Homo sapiens: one gene and its partners. The protein of the gene in region 2 interacts with the protein of the main gene of each other region in a pairwise test. Each region holds a gene or a part of one and is shown on either strand. Other genes may lie near its edges. The genes, in order: ATXN3, PALS1, TRIM59, GPRASP3, NUMB and UBQLN1.

Region 1 (3,500 bases), about 25 Mb from region 2:
ACCACAATGTGTTAGTACACAAACTCTAAAATGGCTAAAATGTTGGAGATTAGAGATACAGAAACTGTTGTATACTACTGATGAGAGGATAAATTGGTATAACCAATAATAACTAATAATTATGTAATGCATCCACTAAAGCTTAATATATACATCTCCTATGATCTAGCAATTCCATTACTAGGTACATAATGTAAACAACAGCAATGCAAACATACATTCATCAAAAGACATGTATAAGAATGTTCACAAAAGCAGTATTTTTGTGCCACAAATAGCATTACTATTTGTAGTAATACAAAATAGCATTACAGATAGCATTACTATTTGTAATGGACCCCAAACTGGAAACGACCCAAATGGATAGCTGGGATCACAGTAGAATGGAAATTGTGTTTACTCACAAAAGAATACTAGATAACAATGAGGATGAATTAACTACAACAGTAGTTAATTAACAATAATTAACAGTAGTTAATTCTGGAACAGTATGGATAAATTTCTCAAACAATGGTAAACTAAAGAGGACAGAATCGAAAGGGTATATACACTGTACACTTCCAGTCACAAAAGCTCAAAATCAGGCAAAACTCATTTATGATGTCAGAATTCAGCATAGTGGTTATATTTGGTGGGAATGCAGTGGAGAGACAGTACCTAGAAAAGGGAATAATGGGAGGTTATAGGATGCAGGTAAATCTTTTGTTACTTGCTGTTTACACATGTTCACTGTGTGAAAATTCGCTGAGCTGTACTCTTAATGATTTGTGTGCTCCTCTCTGTATTGTATCTAATTTTTAAAAAATTCAAACAGTAAGAAAAAAGCCTTTGCTAACACAAATTTCCTGTCTTGCTGTCAGTTTGGAGTTTACAAACTATGGTCACCATACTTAATACCATATATAGCAATAGTGACATCCAAATATTTGATTAAAATTCTCTCTATAAAAAATAGCTTTAAATTATGAAAAATAAGTACTTGAAATCAAACTTCATCAAAGAAAAACTGTATTGCTACAGGAAATATCAAGTTCTGTACTTCTAATATGATTTAATGGAAGGAAAGGACAAACTGTTCAGTACAAATTTAAAAATCACTTAAGGCTAGGCACAGTGGTTCATACTATAATCTCAACTGTTTGAGGGGCTGAGGTGGGAGGATCACTTGAGCCCAGGAGTTCAAGGCTACACGGAGCTAAGATTGTGCCACTGTATTCTGGCCCAGGTGACAGAGCAACATCATGTCTCTCAAAAAGACACAAAATAAATAAAAATAAAAACAAAAATAAACATAACTTAAGTCATAGGACGGATCAAATTCCACATGGACCAAAAGAATTGTACAATGACAATGAGCCCACGTAAGATTATGCATTTTCCTGCCTTGCCCTTATCTCAAACTATCCCCAGCCACCTCTCTCATCAAGCTTTAATCAAAGCAGAAGTTCACTTTGCCATAATCAAAGTTCAGCGGTATTGAAATCTCATGATTTGGCTGGGCATGGTGGCTCATGGCTGTAATTCCAGCACTTTGGGAGGCCAAGGCAGGTTGATCACTTGAGATCAGGAGTTCGAGACCAGCCTGGCCAACATGGTGAAACCCCGCCTCTACTAAAAATATAAGAATTAGCCAGGTGTGGTGGCAGGCGCCTGTAGTCCCAGGTGCTCAGGAGGCTAAGGCAGGAGAATCACCTGAACCCAGGAGGCGGAGGTTGCAGTGAGCTGAGATTGCACCACTGCACTCCAGCCTGGGTGACAGAGTGAGACTCTGCCTCAAAAAATAAAAAATAGGCTGGGCGTGGTAGCTCACGCCTGTAATCCCCGCACTTTGGGAGGCTGAGGCAGGTGGATCACGAGGTCAAGAGATCAAGACCATCCTGGCCAACATGGTGAAACCTCGTCTCTACTAAAAATAAGAAAATTAGCTGGGCATGGTGGCACATGCCTATAGTCCCAGCTACTCGGGAGGCTGAGGCAGGAGAATCTCTTGAACTCAGGAGACGGAGGTTGCAGTGAGCTGAGTTCGCGCCACTGCACTCCAGCCTGGTGACAAAGTGAGACTCTGAAGAAAGTTCGTGCCACTGCACTCCAGCCTGGTGACAGAGTGAGACTCCAAAGAAAGAAAAGAAAGAAAGAAAAGAAAGAAGGAAGGAAGGAAGGAAAGAAAGAAAGAAAAGGAAGAAAGGAAGAAAGGAGGGAGGGAGGGAATAAATAAATTAAAAACAAAAAAAAAAATAAAAGAAATTCTATGATTTTAGGCCCAGACTTCATTGTGTTGGGCTCAGAGAATTAGCAAACTGCAGTTCTACAAAGATAATGTATAAAATCACAAAAGAGAACTGCTACCAAATCATTTACCCCCAACCTCCCCAGGTTTTCAAGACCAACCTGAAACTAGTTCAAATTACCAGAGACACTACTAACTACAACACAAATCAGGTATAAACCTAAGGTGCTCTCGGGAATGGGCTATCTGGGGACAAGCTGTCAATCTAGCAGCATTTCTCACCTCCTCTTAGTGCTCTCCGAGCCCTTACTATGAGGTTCAGCAAACACAAGCACCTGAGTAATGGCAATGGCCAGTACTTCTACAGCACTATCTGCCAGGGAGCCTTCTCTACACTCTAACTCTCAGGTTATGTCTATGTTATTATCCCCACACTACAGAGGAGGAAACTAGAGGACAGGGATACTAAGTAACTTGCTCAGGATCACACAGGTAGTAAAAGGCAGAGCTGAGACTCAAACCCAGGCAGAGGTTTCAAAACCTGTGCTATTAGCACTTCAAGTCATTTATACAGAATTTGGCTTCTCCTAAAGCTCAAATGTCCTAAAGATGGCTAAAATCCAGCAATCACAAAAGGGCATAATGAATGCCACAGAGTCAATGCTCAGCATCTTTTCAATCTTTTCAATAATTTTATGTACAACCCCAGCAAGTTTAGATATTATTACCAGTTTGCATTACATTAAAAGCACCAATACAAATGGCACAGTAACTGCACCAAGAAACATCAGCAAGAGGATTAAAAAAAAAAAAAAAAACAAAGCAGGCACCAGAACTAAAACAAACAACAACAAAAATCCAGTAGTGGTCATAAAGTTAGTACAAAGGTTTAAGTTAGGGGTTGGCAAACTCTAGCCCATGGGCCAAATTCAACCTGCCCCAGTAGCTAAGAATGCACTTTACATTTTTACATGGTTGGGAAAAACATGCACAAATAAGAATGTGTGACAGAGACTACAGCTGGCCTGCAAAGCCTTAAAATATTTACAGAAAACTTGTTTACTTTAGATAAACAGCACCATATATATCTCAGAAACTCAAAGCCATCTCTTTATCCATTCAAATATATACATTTTTTTCTTTTGAGACAGGATCTTGCTCTGTCCCCTAGGCTGGAGTGCAGTGGTGCGATCATGGCTCACTACAGCCTCGACCTCCCAGACTCATGCAATCCTCCCACCTCAGCCTCCCAAGTCTACAGGCATGTGCTAAC
Region 2 (3,657 bases):
CTAAAACTTCCTTATTTGGATTTTCCAAGTACATAGCATTAGTTATTGATATCATTTCTATATTAAATGGTAAGACCTCCCCCACACTGGGGTCTCCAGTCAGAACCACAGAGGGACAGGAAATGGAATTGGCCAGAGTGGCTGTACAACTAGGTGTACAGCAAGGCTTTTTTCCATATTCTTTTGTGGAGGTCAGCAACAACTCAGTTTTCACTTTAAGGACTATGTTGAATATCAGCACATCCTCATCACTAGGATTTAGAAAAGTTTAGGACATTTCTATCTACCATTGCTGATGAGGAAGGGGAGAATGATTGATAGACTTCACTGACCTTGAAATATTTATCATCTCAGACTTCCTAAAAGTATGGCATGGCATCACCTCTGCCTTGATACAAGATCTGCTTGTTAAAGCCATGTTCCTGAATCTTGACAGCACATGGCCCTAGTGCAGGCCTAATGTCTACAGCAGGCACAAGAGCCACTCACTGACACTACCTACACCCTCACTCTAACTTAACATGAACTGCCAATAGTTTAGCTCTTGGAGTTGAAAACAGTTGTCAGTTACAATAAGCAGGATCACAAAACTCCATTGTCAACCATAGACTACACTTCATTCCTGAGACGTAAACTGGAAAACTGAAAAGATTAAGTAAGTGCTAAGTATATTCCTTAGTTTTTAATGCTAAAAATCGGTGTGACCTGTGAAATTTCCTGGCTCTAAACTGGAGTATTTCAGATCTGAAGAGACAGTAGTGTATGGCATTCCTTCCCTCAACCCAAGAATGTTATTTTCTTCCTAAGGAACATTATCTTGAAAATATTTCCACATAAAACACTCTCCAGCCAACTTAATAGGCCATGCAAATTTGAACAGAAAAAGGCGACATATAAACTGTCTACATTTGTTCAAATAAAATTATGTAGAAGAAAAAAAATCAATCAAATATGTACATGACACAAATTACTCCTTAAACATAATTGCTTATGTTAAATTAAATGATGTCAGTATTATTCCAGTGTTTAGCTCTGGGTATAGGAAATGCTGTAGCTAAAGTCACCATAAAAATAAAATCAAGGCATTCACATTTGAGGTTGTTTGTTACACATCACACTATCCTAAAGGCTTGAAAAGACTGCAAATTAAGTTTCCATGCCAATTATATACGTTGAATTTTAAAGCTACAGCTATAGAGACAGTACGAAAATCCTATTAGCTTAAATGTTTCTTTTATGATTTACCAAGCTGTTGCATTCTCGTCATAAGAGGCAGACCTTGTTAGGTTAAAAACCTATTTCTATATATTTAATACCTTTTTCTCTCCAATATTCTTTTCCTAAAATGTTCAAATGACTTTCAGGTCTTCCCTTCCTTTTGATCTTAAAGTCAACTGTCATAATATTTCCCAAGGACATATATAATTTTATTCTAATGCTAAACAAGTGTTTTCAATGACCATTTGTTGATCTATTAAATATTAATATACAGTACAGCAGCTATATTCATCAACAGAATTCCAGTTTATTACCTATATATACGTAGCACAGTCATAGGATACTGTGCTCATACATAAAAATGCAAAAACTGTCAAATGTGCTATCCTCCCATGTATACAAAAAACTATTAGCATCATGAGGAAGAAACTTTTTAAGTCAATACAGATTATAATGAACACCTGCCATTCATAAAAATGTAACATACATTCTATTATACTATGCTGATGAGGGAAGGGAAGCTAAGTGAGTAAATCAGTTGAGACGACTTAAGAAAAAAATTCAGGAAATCATAATTTAAAAAAGATCAGCATATTTTGTATACCTTTAAGTAGATTAGAGTGTGTTGAGTGTAGAGTCTGATCCACAAAGTCTGAGCAAAAAAACTGGTGCTTCTAATGGAATGTTTTTTGTTTTTTTAAGAATCAAAAGACATATAAATGAATTCAAGCCTAACAAAGTAGCTTCAACCCAAAGTGGCACCATTTTGTTTTTTATTTTTCCTTTTTAGGAAAGTATCTCTGATGACTAAATTAGTTTCCTAAGCAAATACTGCCTTGCCCAGTGCATAGAAGCACAGTCCCTCTGCTCAATATTCCCAATGAAGTCATTTAAGTGTTAATGATTTAACACTTAAGAATAATCACATCAATATTTGTGTGAGACATGGACGCTTGTGTATACAAGTTTTTCACAGAGATACAACTAAGCAGAAAGGGTTTAGGTGAAAACAAAAGGTTTTAACAGGACAAAATGGAATGCTCTGTTGAAAGCTTCCATTTAGAATCCCAAAATGAGGCAAGAACCGCTAAAGCCATGTATAGAGAATAAAGGATGCCATGCACAAACTGCCTAAGGGAACTGTCGTCTCACTAATTCAAGAGATCTAAGAACAGATCTACAGCTTATACTGCTGCCTTCCATCTTATCCTCAATCTTGCTGCAGTGTCGGGCAGTCCTCCTATTGGCAGTTTTTGCCAGATCAAGTCCAACATGCCACAGAATGGATGTTTCTTTCACCTCAGCCAAGTGGATGGTACCCACTGAGGTTCAGTATCAAGTTTGTTAATTAACCTAAGCAATTCCTGATAGGCTTTATCAAGATCGGAATTCACAATTGCCGTATCAAAGTAGTGGCCATTGTTCTGCTCCATCTCTCTTGTCTTCTCAATGATTTCTCTCAACTCTTCAGGCTGCAAACAGAAGATAAAAACTGTGAGATAATTCCTTTCCTAACCAAATAATATAGGATGAGTCAGAGATGGCCAAAGAACAAGGAGCGACCTTCATAGCTTTCCTTCTGTCTCTCCCAACCTCAGGAGCTCCTTTCCAACCCTGTCACGGCCACAATGGTTACCTTTGCTTTGGCATCTTCACGACTCATATTATGAACCATCTGGGACTCAATATATCCTGTTTTATACCACTATTTAGGTTTTCACATATTTTGTCTTATCTCACCAACAAAACTACAAGCTTCAAGAACACACACTGTTTCCCTACAAACATTTGTTTTCAAACATTCTAGACACTATAACCTCTTCCTAATAGTAACATCTGTAATATGGAGTGAACCTTTCTGGTTGGAGCAAGGACCTAAAATGCCATTTACTTTTGGCTCTAGTAAAGAGCCCTTGCCCTATACTATCTGCTGCAGAGAGTTAAAAGTATCCTACCAGAGTTTGGGAAACTATATAGAGTAGCCTACTTTAAAATACTGACTGAAGGAAAGGGCCATTTTACAAAGATAAGCAGGCAGCAAGGCTATGTGCAAAACTTATCCTGAACCCTCTAATTATCAGGCACATGGGTTCAAGAAAGTGAAACTCACCTCAAATCACCCCTGCCAATGAAGACAACTAACTTAAACTCAAGACAAAATGTCTCAGATATAAAAGTCACACATCAATACTATATTGGACCCATAGTACAAAACAATTTATATCATTCAACTGTTTGAACTTCTGTAACAGTAAGAAAACATATTAAAAATATGACAACTCTGGCTTGTCCTGAGGCAGTTTCTTGCATGACTCTCATTCTGGAATGTTGTACATCTGAATATGGCACACAGAATCCTTTGTTCCCAGCAGGGAATCTACTTCACCACTGTAACTGAACACACTGACATTTTTGCTAAAACTTATGTCTACCGTAAGC
Region 3 (2,392 bases), on a different chromosome or scaffold from region 2:
CAAAAGCAATAGTTTTATTTGGAGTGAATGGTGATAAGCATTTAGGGCTCTTAAATCTATCTCAAACACAGGTATGTTTGATCAAAAGATCTTTAAGCCATGCCTTATCACTTTAAGACTTTGTTGCTTGATTTTGAAACCTTTCTATCATCCTTATTCACCCATTCAAAAGCTTCAAGCCACATCAAAATAAAGGTATATGTTCTTTCAGGATTTTGCTATATATATAAAGAACTGTAAAGCCAATTAACTGCAGTATATAATAATGGTAAAAGACAATATTGGTACAAGAATGTTTAAATGTCACAGCAACATTATGTCAACCATCATAAAGCCAATAAAAATGGGATAGTGTATTACTTTTCAAATTGTTACTAGATTCTGTTTCCCAAAGATTTGACTATTTCAGATATAACTTTGACATATCATTGCTAACCAAAAGAAGCAACAAATATAAACATTTGTTTATATTAGTTGCAGCACTAATAAAGCTTAGTTTGCTCTTTATCCATGCTACCCCATTTTTTGTTTAGCAATGTACAGAATAAGCCCATTTAAACAATTCAGGTTGACATTTTCAATGGGAAACTATTTTCCACACAAATTCCTTCAACAAATAGAAAATGTGACACAGTATATTCTTTACCTTATGCAGACTGTTAGATAAACTTTGGTAAACAGATAGAGAGGCTTCAGAAAACCATATTAAAGTGATTTCACTTAAAAAGGTTATGATGTGTTGGTTGAAAAAGAGTATCGACATCAGTATTACTGAAATTAATGTAACTACAACAATGTTTAAAATTTTTAAAAATTCAACTTCCTTTTCATCCTTACCAGGCCAGGAACATGACATCCTTTTTGGAGAAATTTTCATTTTGGGAATGAGAACGTTCTTAATTTGTCCAATTTCTGTTCTGCTCCATTCTTCTTTCAATATTTTGCTTACTCGAGGATAAATTTCAACGGGTTGAACCTCAGGAAGTGGTCTTTGTTTCAAGATCTGTACATGCTGGCGTACATCATCAACTTTTTCAAGAAATTTAAGTGGAGACTCTTCTTGTAAAGATATTGTCAGTGCCATTAATTCAAGCTGCTGCTCTCGTATTTCCTTCATTCTTTCAATTTGTGGAGTATATTCTTGATTAATTAGATTGCCAACATCACAGAGAGCCGTTAGGAAACTTTTTTTTTTCTGTTCTAATGTATCATTAAGCTCCTTAAAATACTGGAGAACAGCTTCCTTATCGCCTTGGATCATTTTCTCAGAATGAGATTTTTGTTCTTTCAGCTTTTCAATAAGATGGGTAAGATCTGTCCAGTGTGTGTCAGTCAACTGTTCAAGCAGTTTTTGAGGAGTGTCCTTTTCTTTCAAATAGGCACTTTGAAGGTCATCTATAGGATGACCATGATGTTGACCTATGGTAAGGCAATGACCACAAACTAATTTTTTATCTAATAGACAGTAAACATTTAATGGTTGCCTGTAATGTTCAGGGCAGGTGACAATATCTGGATGGTCTTCTTGCTGGTACTTTTCAATAATAGCCCTTAGTGCAAAATTAACAGGTAAAGATTCAATGCCAGTTGGAGCAATTTCAGTAATACTTCTGCAATTAGGGCACTTGAGTGGAATTCGTAAAGGTCTCCATATATAAAAGTTACCAGATGCCTGAAGAATGTTTTCCAAACAATTTCTACAAAATGTATGAGAGCATGGCAGTACACGAGGATCTTCAAAAATACTATAACATATGGGACAAGTTAACTCTTCCTCAAAATTGTGCATTTCCTGTCAAGAGAAAAATGTATTTTAAGTTTACATAGAGACACCTGTACATATTATTTAACATTCTAGGCATTAACCTCCAAATTGTTACCATACTGCTTGTCATTTAAAAGAGAACAAGGTATTTTTAAAATGAAGTTTTCTGAGTAATTCATTTCCTAGTATATATAGTGAATAACTGATCACAATTAAGAGTTTATTCCTTAGGGACCAAAATCATCCCAAACAAAGCAATTATCATTAATTTGTAGTAAAATGCTTCAAATTTAAGTTATTTAAATTTGTTGCTATGTGATATGGTTTGGCTGTGTCTCCACCCAAATCTCATCTTGAATTGTAGCTCCCATAATTCCCACATGTTGTGGGAGGGACTCAGCGGTAGATAACTTTAGTCATGGGGGCAGTTCCCCCATACTGTTCTTGTAGTATCACGAGATCTGATGGTTTTGTAAGAGGAAACCCCTTTTGCTTCACTCATTCTCTTTTCTTGTCTGCCGCCATGTGAGACGTGCCTTTCACCTTCTGCCATGATTGTGAGGTCTCCCCAGCCATGTGGAACTGTGAGTCCATTAAACCTCTTTTTCCTTATAAATTACCCAGTCT
Region 4 (3,657 bases), on a different chromosome or scaffold from region 2:
CAAGTTTCCCCTGCTGATGACTCCAAATCTACATCTTACTCATTGAACAAAGTTTTAGGCTCCTACTATTTTCGACACTGCCAGATAAAATCCATCTATTTACCTCAGAATTTTCTCCTGACCTCCAGCCAGATGTAGCCAAATGTCTAATGGACACACGAATTTGGAGGAAGTTAAGAATTGTAACACCTGGCATGGACATGATCCATTGCAAAATTAAACCATTCAAACCAGTCTCTGAGCTTTGAAGGCCCCCCCACCTCAAAATGTCCTTCAGGAAGACTGTAAAGCAGTGTGGTGAGATGGGTTCTGGTGTCAGACAAAACAGCTATGCCACCTTCCTGCTGTGGGAATCTAGGAAAAGGTATTTAACCTCTCTAATTCTCATTGGAGGGTACCCAGAATAATGAGTTCTAATAAAAATATAAGTAACTAACTCACAAGATCACTGTGAGAAGAGGAAAAAAACTTGTAAAATATGGTGCCAACACAGTGTTTGACATAGAATAGGCACTCACAAAACGTTTCCTGCCTTCTCTTTTGTGAGATAACTTTGATGTAAATGAAACAGCCTAACAATTTAAGAGTTATGAATGTAGTAGCAAAATTAAAATTGAACAAATAATACATTTTGTCTGAGATTCTGAGTCATTTCTGTGTTGCGGAACGAGTATCTGATACAGCTGGAACAGGAGAAAAATAGTTTCTCTTACATTAAATAGCCTATAGGAACTCCTGCCTCCTTTATGTAGAGTGCGCACATTTGGCCATGAGCGTGCACGTGCACACACAGAGACACGCACACTCACACACACTCTCTCTCTAGGTACTGTTATCTTTGTGTGTGTGTATGCCTTACTTCTGTAACTAGATTACAAACTCAAGGATATTTTCTTTTTTGCCATTTTAAGCCACAGATACTAATGAACAAGTTAGCTTACTTAAAACGAACTGGTTTGCTATCTTAAGTAAAATGTTAAAAATATGCCAATCTAGACAAGATAAAAATCAAACATTTTCAGCCCAAGGTATAATATTCATTTGATACCCCCAAAATAGTCTAGCTCAAACCTAGAGCCTGTCACAGGTGACTCTGTGTTAAAGATGCAGTGTATAATGTGTACACTGTAATGTACAGCCTGCTAGAGTTTGAAGATGGCTTAAAATGTTCTATCTCTGGCTCATTTTACATTGTTTCAATAATCTCTTTAACTTCCCTGAAAATGGCCATGAGTGTATTATAACTCAAGTGATCAACAACTACAATTGAGCCTTTTCTGATATGCTCCTTTATGTTAATAAATATGGCCACACCACTAACAAGATTGGCTTTTGCCTCTTTCTGGTTAAAGATGAGTTTTAATGCTGCCAATGCCTTCATATTGATCATGTCTCTGGCTGCAGTTGGATTTTCAGACATATTTAAAAGTAGTTTCAAAACAAGATTTCTGGTTTTGCAATTTCCTGAGGACAGCAAATGGAAAAGCTCTGAAAAGTAATTGGCAACAATGTAGTGATGGACAAAATCAGTAGTCAGTTGTCCTAGTATCTTTAATCCAGATTGCTGTCCCGGTGAGTTCAAAGGAAATGACATGGTTTCTTTACACATATGCTTAACATGTAATTCAATTTTGCGTTGTCTTTCATCCCCAGAAGGAGGATTCAGAGTAATTACAGTCTTTTTTCTCATTTCAGGGGAAGGAAAACTGAGCAAGCTTTCAATAAGTGTCACTACACCTACTTCGTTAATAAACTCTTGGGCAAATGGGTGAACATTATGGACACCCATTGCAATCCGTGCTATTTTATGAATAAGAGGATCAGTAGTTGACTTAAGTAAGCTAACAAGTTTTTCAAATTCCTCAGAATCCATATAGCATTCCATTTTGCAAGGACAAGCAAATGGCTTAATCCCATTTACCTCCCTGATCCTGATTTGACGTCTAATCTCATCTATGGTCTGGATGCAGGGGTCAGAATCAAAACGACACTCAGGGATAGGCTGTGAGCATGAGCGAGTGTTCCTAGAAGGGCGGCAAGCTGTTGCCACAGGCAAAGAACAGGCATTTTCTTCAGCGGAGGCCAGAACAATATATGAAGGAGGGCTTGCCTCAGATGGTGCCTGGGATCTAAATCCTAACACAGCTGGAGTTACAGCAGGGGCATTGGGCCAGATAGTTACCTCAGACCAGTCCTTGGGCCTATTTTTTTCATTAATTTCATACACAGGCTGAGGCTTAACTATCCTGCTCACAGGTTTAGGATTAGGGTCAAAACTAGTATCATCTCCTTCCCAAAACCAGTTCCCAATAACATTCTCTTCCTCCTCCTCCTCAGCCCCTGACCTAGGTTTGCAATCGGCCCCAGCCGCAGGTTCCAACTCCTCAGCACAGACCTGGGCACCAATTTCAGGTTTATCATTCTTAGTGCTGAAACTATTACCAGCCTCTTCTCCATTCCAGAACCAGGAATTGATAGTGGCCTCTTCCCCAGCCCAGAACCAGGCATCAGTACCAGCCTCATTTTTACATGTGGAGCTGGTGGACTCATTCCCAGCCTTGGGAGTGAAATCTCCCATGGCTTTGCCCAGAGTCTTAGGCTCTGACAGAGCTCCTTCCTTCGTCTCAGCAACAACCTTGTTCTTAGACACTGCCTTCATCTCTGCTACTGCATCTGTCTTAGACCCTGTCTTGGCTTTTGCTTTGGCCCTGGTCTTGGCTACAGGCCTAACAACACCAGTAGCCTCCCTCTCTGCTCCAGCTTTAGCTTGTATAGCAGCCTTTTTTTCAGTTTTGGCCTGGGCTCTTGTCTTATTCTTAGTCCCAGCCATGGTTGAAGCCCAGTTATATGGCCCTGTCCAGTCTTGGCCTTGGTTCTCAATGTGTCCTAGGTCGAAGTCTTAACACTCTTTCACTGGGTCGGGGAAAAACTTGGTAGCAAGAATTAGAGTCAACTGTCAGTTCTGCAGTCACAAAGTTCTCTTTCCAAACATACAGCCTCTGTCAATGATACAGAGGGCAGAGGCACGCTCGGGCTGGGGGAGAATGATTGTTCCCAAGTGCAGACCTGCTGAAGGTGATGGTCTTCCAACAATCCAAAGCCACCACAGCCACCAGTGGAGATGGACCTGAGGTTGAAGAAAGAAACTGGCTTTGAGTCTTGTCTAACTGTGCTTCTCTATGCAAACAGCCACACAGAAGGACATAGGAGAGTAGAAATGAATTGTGTAGAAGTGGATTAATAAAAAACTCTGCTACTTAATTTTATACCTTGCACACTGCCACTAATGCTCAACAATGTCCTGCCCAAGCACTGTCATTCTTTTACTCTGCATCAAACAGGAACAAAGATGGCAGGTAAGCTTGCTGAGAGTGAGAAAGGCTAAAGGAGTGCCCAGTCTCTTTGGACCCATGCTAGTAGGTCCACCACTAAAATATATACCACTAGACCTCATAGGTGTATTCAGGCAGCACTCACACCAACCTGCACTGATCTAGTGCAATTTTTCCTCCTTCCCTGTTTGCAGTGTTGATATGCCCTATAGTTAACTCATGGGCAGGCCTATGGACAAAAATACAGATGGGATTGGAGTTCTGAGTATTTGGTTGACAGACCTACACTCTAATCTCTAAACCCAATTTCTGCCTTTCCAAATCT
Region 5 (3,657 bases), 6.0 Mb from region 2:
CTTGGGAGGCTGAGGCATGAGAGTCACTTGAACCTAGGAGGCAGAGGTTGCAGTAAGCTGAGATTGCATCATTGCACTCCAGCAGCCTGGGCGACAGAGCAAGACTATCTCAAAAAAAGAAAGTAAAAAGAGAATCCTGGAAATGAGTAAGCCAAAAAGGAGTAGTCCCAAATTCTGTTCATAAATTCTGCCCAAATCTCTGACCCTTTTAGCCATGTAGATTCAAGGCAGACTCCAAATAGCCCAACTAAGGATATAAAAACTGATATTTGATTACCTACGTATGGTGACATGCACCTGTAGTCCTAGCTCCTCGGGAGGCTGAGGCGGGAGGATGCTTGAGCCCTGGAGTTGAGGTTACAGTGAGCAGTGATTGCGCCACTGCACTCCAGCCTGGATGACGGAGCAAGACAGTCTCAAAAAAAGAACAAAAACGCCCTGATGTCTGAGGTGCTGTTCAAAAGATAAGAGTTTTCCATTTGAGTATAATCAAATTAGCTACCTGATAAAACCAAAAATATGACACTTCCAAGGAATGTAACGGAATCCATTCTTTCCACATACAACATTCACAATGACTACAATGCAGTTACTCAGCATACAACAAAACAGACAAGTCTGACTTATTCTCATCAAAATAACAATCAATAAAGACCTAACTTCAAGATGACTCAGATGTTGGAATTAGCAGACAGATTTTAAATGCCCGCCTTCACTATTTGACCAAGAAATAAATGTCTCTTGTATTTGAGTCATTGTATTGTTTTGTGTTTATAGCATCACCACAACTAGTACAGAAAATGGTACACTGAAGTAGACTGCTACCTTAACAGAAATGAAAACAGTGTATAGAAGGCATTATAACTATACTCAGTGACAGAAAGGAAATATGTTCATGTTGAATGAAGAGATAGAAATCTTGGCAGAGAATAGAAACTATGAAAAAGAAACAAATGGCTGGGCACGGTGGCTCGTGCCTGTAATCCCAGCACTTTGGGAGGCCAAGGCAGGTGGATCATGAGGTCAGGAGATTGAGACCGTCCTGGCTAACACAGTGAAACCTGTCTCTACTAAAAATACAAAAAAATTAGCCGGGCGTGGTGGCACACGCCTGTAGTCCCAGCTGCTTGGGAGGCTGAGGCAGGAGAATTGCTTGAACCCGGGAGGCAGAGGTTGCAGTGAGCCAAGATCGCGCCACTGCACTCCAGCCTGGGTGACAGAGTGAGACTGTCCAAAAAAAAAAAAAAAAAAAGAAAAAGAAACGAGTGGAAATTCCACACCTGAAAAATACAGTATCTGAAGTAACTTCACTGGATCGGGTATATATAATGTAAAAAAGCAAGGTGCAGAACTGTGTGTATGTGTGTGTAGTGTTCATTGTGTAACGAAGTTAGCATAAACATGACTATTATATGTATTTGCTTATATTTGGGAATAAACCCAAAGGATTTTTTTTTTATCCAAAGGATTAAAGATACTGATTTACATATATTGTTGAATGTGGAATCTACCATGAAAGAGATGTAAAACTAGAATCAACAAGCATATGCTTTAGAACATGTAGTTGAGAGAGGTATCTGGGCAAAGTGCCTCTTGGGATGTCTGCTGAGTCCAATTCTCAGTATTTAAACTGCTGGACACAGATCTAGGTATTCCATAGCCTAGTTGTATCAGATGTATGGATTGTGCATCATGAAATGAACATCCTGTGTTCTGAGAAGCTCAGATAACCTCATAAGTCTTCTCTTTCTTTGTGTGTCGTATTTTCTAGGACCTCATAGTTGACCAGACGATAGAGAAAGTTTCTTTCTGTGCCCCAGACAGGAACTTTGATAGAGCCTTTTCTTACATATGCCGTGATGGCACCACTCGTCGCTGGATCTGTCACTGCTTCATGGCTGTCAAGGACACAGTGAGTCCAGCAAATATGTATTTCATGATGAGTATTCTCAGTTAGCTGGGCTCTTTCTGGGTTTGCTCAGCCAAGCGGTTTCTACTACATTTTTAACAAGTACTTGGAAGTGCCTAAACTAGCCTACTTTCAGCTCCTTTTATTCAAATAGTTCACACTCTTGATGTAACCCCAGGAGTTGCAACTCACTGAACAAAATGATTGGCTGAAACCAAAGATCATTAAAGGAAGGTAAAAATGGTCTGGTGATAGTGGTTGCTAAACTTTATTTGAAACTTTTAATTATTGGAAGTATTTTCAGGGTTCTTAAATGTATTTGTTGGCTAACATATATGAGTATGGTATTAAAAATGTATTTGCATAGAGACTACTACAAATGAAAGAAGTTGGCTGGGCCTGATGGCTCACCCCTATAATCCCAGCACTTTGGCCAGGGCAGGAAGATCACTTGAGACCACAAGTTGGAAACTAACCTGGGTTACATGGCAAGACCTCATCTTTACAAAGTTAAAGAAAAAATTAGCCAGGCATGGTGGCACATGCATGTAGTCCTAGCTACATTCTACATGCCTTGGGAGGCTGAGGCGAGCAGAACACTTGAGCGTAGGTGTTGGAGGCTACAGTGAGTCATCGTGCCATTACACTCCAGCCTGGGTGACAGAGTGAGACCTTGTCTCCAAAAACAGAACAAAACAAAAAAACAAAACTGAGTTGGAGTATACTTTCAACTATTATAAAAACAGAAATACCGGCCAGGCACGGTGGTTCACACCTGTAATCCCAGCACTTTAGGAGGCCGAGGCAGGCGGATCACGAGGTCAGGAGTTCAAGACCAGCCTGGCCAATATGGTGAAACCCCGTCTCTACTAAAAATACAAAAAAATTAGCTGGGCGTGGTGGTGCATGCCTGTAGTCCCAGCTACTCGGGAGGCTGAGGCAGAAGAATCGCTTGAACCCAGGAGGTAGAGGTTGCAGTGAGCTGAGATTTGTGCCACTGACTCCATCCTGGGTGACAGAGCAAGACTCTGGCCAAAAAAAAAAGAAAAAAGAAATACTGGCCGGGCATGGTGGCTCACACCTGTAATCCCAGCACTTTGGGAGGCCGAGGTAGGCAGATCACCTGAGGTCAAGAGTTCAAGACCAGTCTGGCCAACATGGTGAAACCCTGTCTCTACTAAAAATGCAAAAGTTAGCCAGGTGTGGTGGCGCATGCCTGTGATCCCAGCTACTTGGGAGACTGACTCAGGAGAATCGCTTGAACTCGGAGGCAGAGGTTGCAGTGAGCCAAGATTGCACCACTGCACTCCAGCCTGGACGACAGTAAGACTCCGTCTCAAAAATAAAACAAAAATAGGCCAGGCACGGTGGCTCACGCCTGTAATCCTAGCACTTTGGGAGGTTGAGGTGGGCAGATCACTTGAGGTCAGGAGTTGGAGACCAGCCTGGCCAACATGATGAAACCCTGTCTCTACTAAAAATACAAAAATTAGCCGGCTGTGGTGGCGGGTGCTTGTAATCCCAGTTATTCAGGAGGCTGAGGCACGAGAATCGCTTGAACCCAGGAGGCAGAGGTTGCAGTGAGTCAAGATTGCACCACTGCACTGCAGCCTAGGTGACAAAGCAAGACTCCATCTCAAAAAAAAAAAACAAAAAACAAAAACTAAACAGAAATACTAAGTTACGGTAGAATGAACAACGCTAGAAATTGTTGCATGATAGAAGTTTTGTTTTAAAATAGAGAATAA
Region 6 (3,657 bases), on a different chromosome or scaffold from region 2:
CATTACCCAAGATAGCTAACATCTTGTCTTACTCACTTGTTGGAGGAAAGTTGGGAGCTGTTGTCTCATTTGTTCTTGAAGCTGAGGATTTCCAGCAAATAGGGGATTATTCAGCATCATCTATGGGGCAAGTGTTCAAACAATTTTAACTGGAAATATCTGAAACAAGTAATGTACCTTGTTTTATTCTATCTTCCCCCAAGTGCCTCAGCTGGCACTTAAAAGGGAGGAAGGTAGAACATAAATAAAAAAAGGAAAAGGGAAGATACTGTCCACAAGAGGGATCTCCAGAAGAACAAAAACAAAAAAATGAGGCATATTCTCTCTCAATGAGAATGGTGGTTATGATAATGACATGCAATATCCTAAAAAATAAAAGCAATCATTTTCTTAGGCTTTTCCTTGAACAAACGTGAATATATGCCATTGAAAGAAAAATGGGAGTAACTGGCATTCATGAAGATATATTTTCTACTACACTGGCAGAATAAACATAAACATCAATACATGAACTATGTAACATGGCTTGCTTAGAAACCTCAACACACAAGTGGCAGGCACAGAGAAAATCTAGATCTGAAAAGGACCACTACATCTACCTGCCTACTACAAAACAGCTAATATTAGGTCCAAAAAAATAACACCGCAAAACAGCAACCAACTTGCCAGAGAAATGGAGCTGCTAGGTGAAAATCAGTCAGGCCTAGCACCAACAGTCCTCTGGGAAAAGTATTAAAATGATTTAAGACCTAAAAGATGTAAATCCATTTGAGAACACCAAGATTAGCATCTGGATTTCACCTCACTACTACCAGAGATGAGAAAAGTGGCATCTCCTAAACTTCAAATAAACGTTAAGAATTTAAAAATCAGGATCATTATTAGTATGATGTCATATACCTGAAAATAAGATTAAAATACACAAGGAGCATAACCAGAGCTAATAAATTCTTGTAGCTTCAAAAGACACATTTTATATCATTTTCCCCAGGCGGAGTAAAAAGTCAACTAACAAGGATTTACTGATAGCCTATTTATCTATCCAAAGTCTGGGGAGGAAATGATCCTTGCCCTCAAGAAGTTAACCGTATTTAAGAGCAATGTAAATGCTGGTAGAGAAAATTCGCCCCAATTCTTGCAAAGTGATCTTTTAGTTAATTTCAATACAATAACAAAAGCAGATGTCAGACAACCTTTCAGGAACATACAGTATTTATTTCAAAGTGACCAGTAAGTTCACAGTAAGTAAACTCATACAGGCTTAAGGTCAACAAACCTGCTTCTTTATTGGTTCCAAATACTTATCATCAACATATTAACGAGGTTATCACACATATCTTTTGGAATTCACTTCATTTCATCTTAAAAAAGCATGTCATCTTAAACGTATCCTTTCACAGATAATCATCTTATTAGATACTTCTTATAACTTACCTGAGTGCTTATACCACAAGTTTTTACACTCAAGAGTCTTTTTAAATATTTAAAAATCAAAAGAATAGAAAAACCACAAATTTTAATCTGCAGATAACAAGAACATTGTAAAAGTTTCTAAATTATCTGTAATAAAAGACATGCCAATCTAGTACTAGCAACATTTTGTTTTAGAGTAAAAAAATAGTATGTGAGTGCTCAAGTCACTTTACTAAAGTAAGATTATTACAAAATTGCTACGCATGTGCTTGTTAAAGTCAAATTTTAAAAGCAAGATGCACATTCAGTATTAGCCAAATACACACTTAAAATGGCTTATTATGGTAAATTGAAGCATTTAATACTAACAACTCAGTCTGATAAGTTTCATATGCATAAATCAATCTTCCATAAAATGTACCTCCAATATACAGAATCACAGACACAAAAATTCTTCTTAAAATTTGTTATTTCCAATTCCACAAATTTGGTGAGGGCATAAGTTATTACTGAGAATTATACACAAAGATACCTGAATCAATATAGTTTTAGAATTTAGAAAATAAAAACCATTCATTTGACTTAAAGCTTTTAAAATTTAAGGGATGAGATTAACTATAAAGTCTTCCAAATTCCTGACACACTACAGAAGCCATTTTTAACGAACAGCAAATATAAACTACAGATTATCAAGGTTTATTTCACATTCTCCGTGGTTTTTCAAGCCCTGTGGTATGGAACCTAGATAGTACCTAGGCAACTTGAGGGAGAAAGGGTTATCGGACGCAATTATCTCAAAATCTCTAAGGATGAGGCCCCAACCATCGGTACTGTCTATAAAGCTTCCCAAGTGATCCTGAGTGTTCAGCCAGCATTAAGATCCCCAATTTTCTTAGCTGTGGTCTCTTTAGAAACAAATTAGAAAAAGGAATACATTAATAAGGGACCTGTATACGATTTTCAGCAGGGGAATCAATAGTTGAAAGAAGGAGAACATTGTTCTGACAAATTCCCGTCTTTAATAAATGCTATTTTACAACTGCCATTCTGAGCATGACTATTATAATCTGAGTGATCTACTAAATAAAAGTATTTCAAATGTATTAACATTGCTCTTAATTGCTTTCAAGATTTACATTTCATTAAGTAGTTTATCTTCAAAAGAGTGGGCATTCCAGAACTCTGTACTTGTCTCCTAACTCAACATATGTAGAAACAAACTAAACCTGCACTTCTTTCTAGTCAATGAATGGCAGAGATAAAGTTGTTTTAATTACATATGAAGTATTAATTTACTGCAAAGAAACACACGGTCTAAAAAATTGGAGACACAGTTTACTTATTTTTCTAGTGTATTAAGATATCATACACAACACAAATGTGCCAAAATCACAATTACAAGATTAGGTTATTTTAATTCACACTGCACAGTCTTTTTCAATACAATTACAAACTCACCTGTGCAGCAAGGTCAGGATTCTGGCTTAGTGACTGCATCATGCTTCTCATGTAGGGGGCAGACAACATGTTTTGCATCAGTTGTGGGTTTTCAGTTATTTGTTGCAACAAGCTCTGCATTCCTGGTGTGTTGAACATACTAGCTGAAAGTTTGTTTTTAAAAAAGACATATTAAGGAAAAATACTTAAACAAAAGTTAAAGCTTTAAAATATAATATGCACTGTGTTTAATTTCACCAAGTACAAATGATTATACATATTATGTATCAACTGAACTACGAAAGAACTTTAAAACTAAAACATCTCTAAAAGTACATGCCCAACATATACCAGGAAAAGAGGACTGATGAGTTTAAACATTCTGCATTTACAGTAAAATCTTGTCTAATGAAGAGCTAGCTTCTGAAGTCAACTTAAGGCAAAAATTACGTATGGTCAAAATTACTGCTGAAAAATTCCATAAAGTGAAAAGGACTGAGCCAACTTTTCCTCCAAGACTGCAAAGAATTAATTAGAATCATATTCGGCACTTAATATTGCCCACCCTTATGAAAGAAGTAAGCCTTCATGCCCAAGGCAACAAAAGATGTAATGCCTCCACCCATTTTCACTGTGTACTGCCACTCACTGAGTAAAATGGTAGGCACATTTAACATTTGAAACCATAGAGCACAGTGACTCCAAGCAGTATCAGGAGCCTGATTACGTGGGTTCAAATCTAATCTAACCCATGTGATCTTGGGCAAGTTATCTAGCGTCTTCATACTTCAGGTTCCCCATCTGTAA

What was found.
Region 1: the proteins of PALS1 (region 2) and ATXN3 interact in binary tests that used the Homo sapiens proteins (3 or more experiments, as listed by UniProt).
Region 3: the proteins of PALS1 (region 2) and TRIM59 interact in a two-hybrid assay, tested with the Homo sapiens proteins (one large-scale study listed by BioGRID).
Region 4: the proteins of PALS1 (region 2) and GPRASP3 interact in binary tests that used the Homo sapiens proteins (3 or more experiments, as listed by UniProt).
Region 5: the proteins of PALS1 (region 2) and NUMB interact in a two-hybrid assay, tested with the Homo sapiens proteins (one large-scale study listed by BioGRID).
Region 6: the proteins of PALS1 (region 2) and UBQLN1 interact in binary tests that used the Homo sapiens proteins (3 or more experiments, as listed by UniProt).

What each region holds. Positions count from the first base shown.
Region 1 is NC_000014.9:92,100,083-92,103,582, forward strand, and holds part of ATXN3 (ataxin-3 reference isoform), read right to left. Parts: intron 1-3,500. UniProt on the Homo sapiens protein: Deubiquitinating enzyme involved in protein homeostasis maintenance, transcription, cytoskeleton regulation, myogenesis and degradation of misfolded chaperone substrates.
Region 2 is NC_000014.9:67,331,813-67,335,469, reverse strand, and holds part of PALS1 (protein PALS1), read right to left. Parts: intron 2,691-3,657; coding exon 2,514-2,690; 3' UTR 1-2,513. UniProt on the Homo sapiens protein: Plays a role in tight junction biogenesis and in the establishment of cell polarity in epithelial cells.
Region 3 is NC_000003.12:160,437,395-160,439,786, forward strand, and holds part of TRIM59 (tripartite motif-containing protein 59), read right to left. Parts: intron 1,793-2,392; 5' UTR 1,790-1,792; coding exon 578-1,789; 3' UTR 1-577. UniProt on the Homo sapiens protein: E3 ubiquitin ligase involved in different processes such as development and immune response. Serves as a negative regulator for innate immune signaling pathways by suppressing RLR-induced activation of IRF3/7 and NF-kappa-B via interaction with adapter ECSIT.
Region 4 is NC_000023.11:102,748,169-102,751,825, reverse strand, and holds part of GPRASP3 (G protein-coupled receptor associated sorting protein 3), read right to left. Parts: intron 3,128-3,657; 5' UTR 2,831-3,127; coding exon 1,187-2,830; 3' UTR 1-1,186. UniProt on the Homo sapiens protein: Survival and differentiation promoting protein that plays a role in the regulation of neurosynaptogenesis. Induces phosphatase PP2A activity which results in APP dephosphorylation and inhibits BACE1-mediated processing of APP.
Region 5 is NC_000014.9:73,290,989-73,294,645, reverse strand, and holds part of NUMB (protein numb homolog), read left to right. Parts: intron 1-1,771; coding exon 1,772-1,912; intron 1,913-3,657. UniProt on the Homo sapiens protein: Regulates clathrin-mediated receptor endocytosis. Plays a role in the process of neurogenesis.
Region 6 is NC_000009.12:83,666,314-83,669,970, forward strand, and holds part of UBQLN1 (ubiquilin-1), read right to left. Parts: intron 3,015-3,657; coding exon 2,872-3,014; intron 2,319-2,871; coding exon of another isoform or gene 2,217-2,318; exon of another isoform or gene 1,195-2,216; intron 121-1,194; coding exon 37-120; intron 1-36. UniProt on the Homo sapiens protein: Plays an important role in the regulation of different protein degradation mechanisms and pathways including ubiquitin-proteasome system (UPS), autophagy and endoplasmic reticulum-associated protein degradation (ERAD) pathway.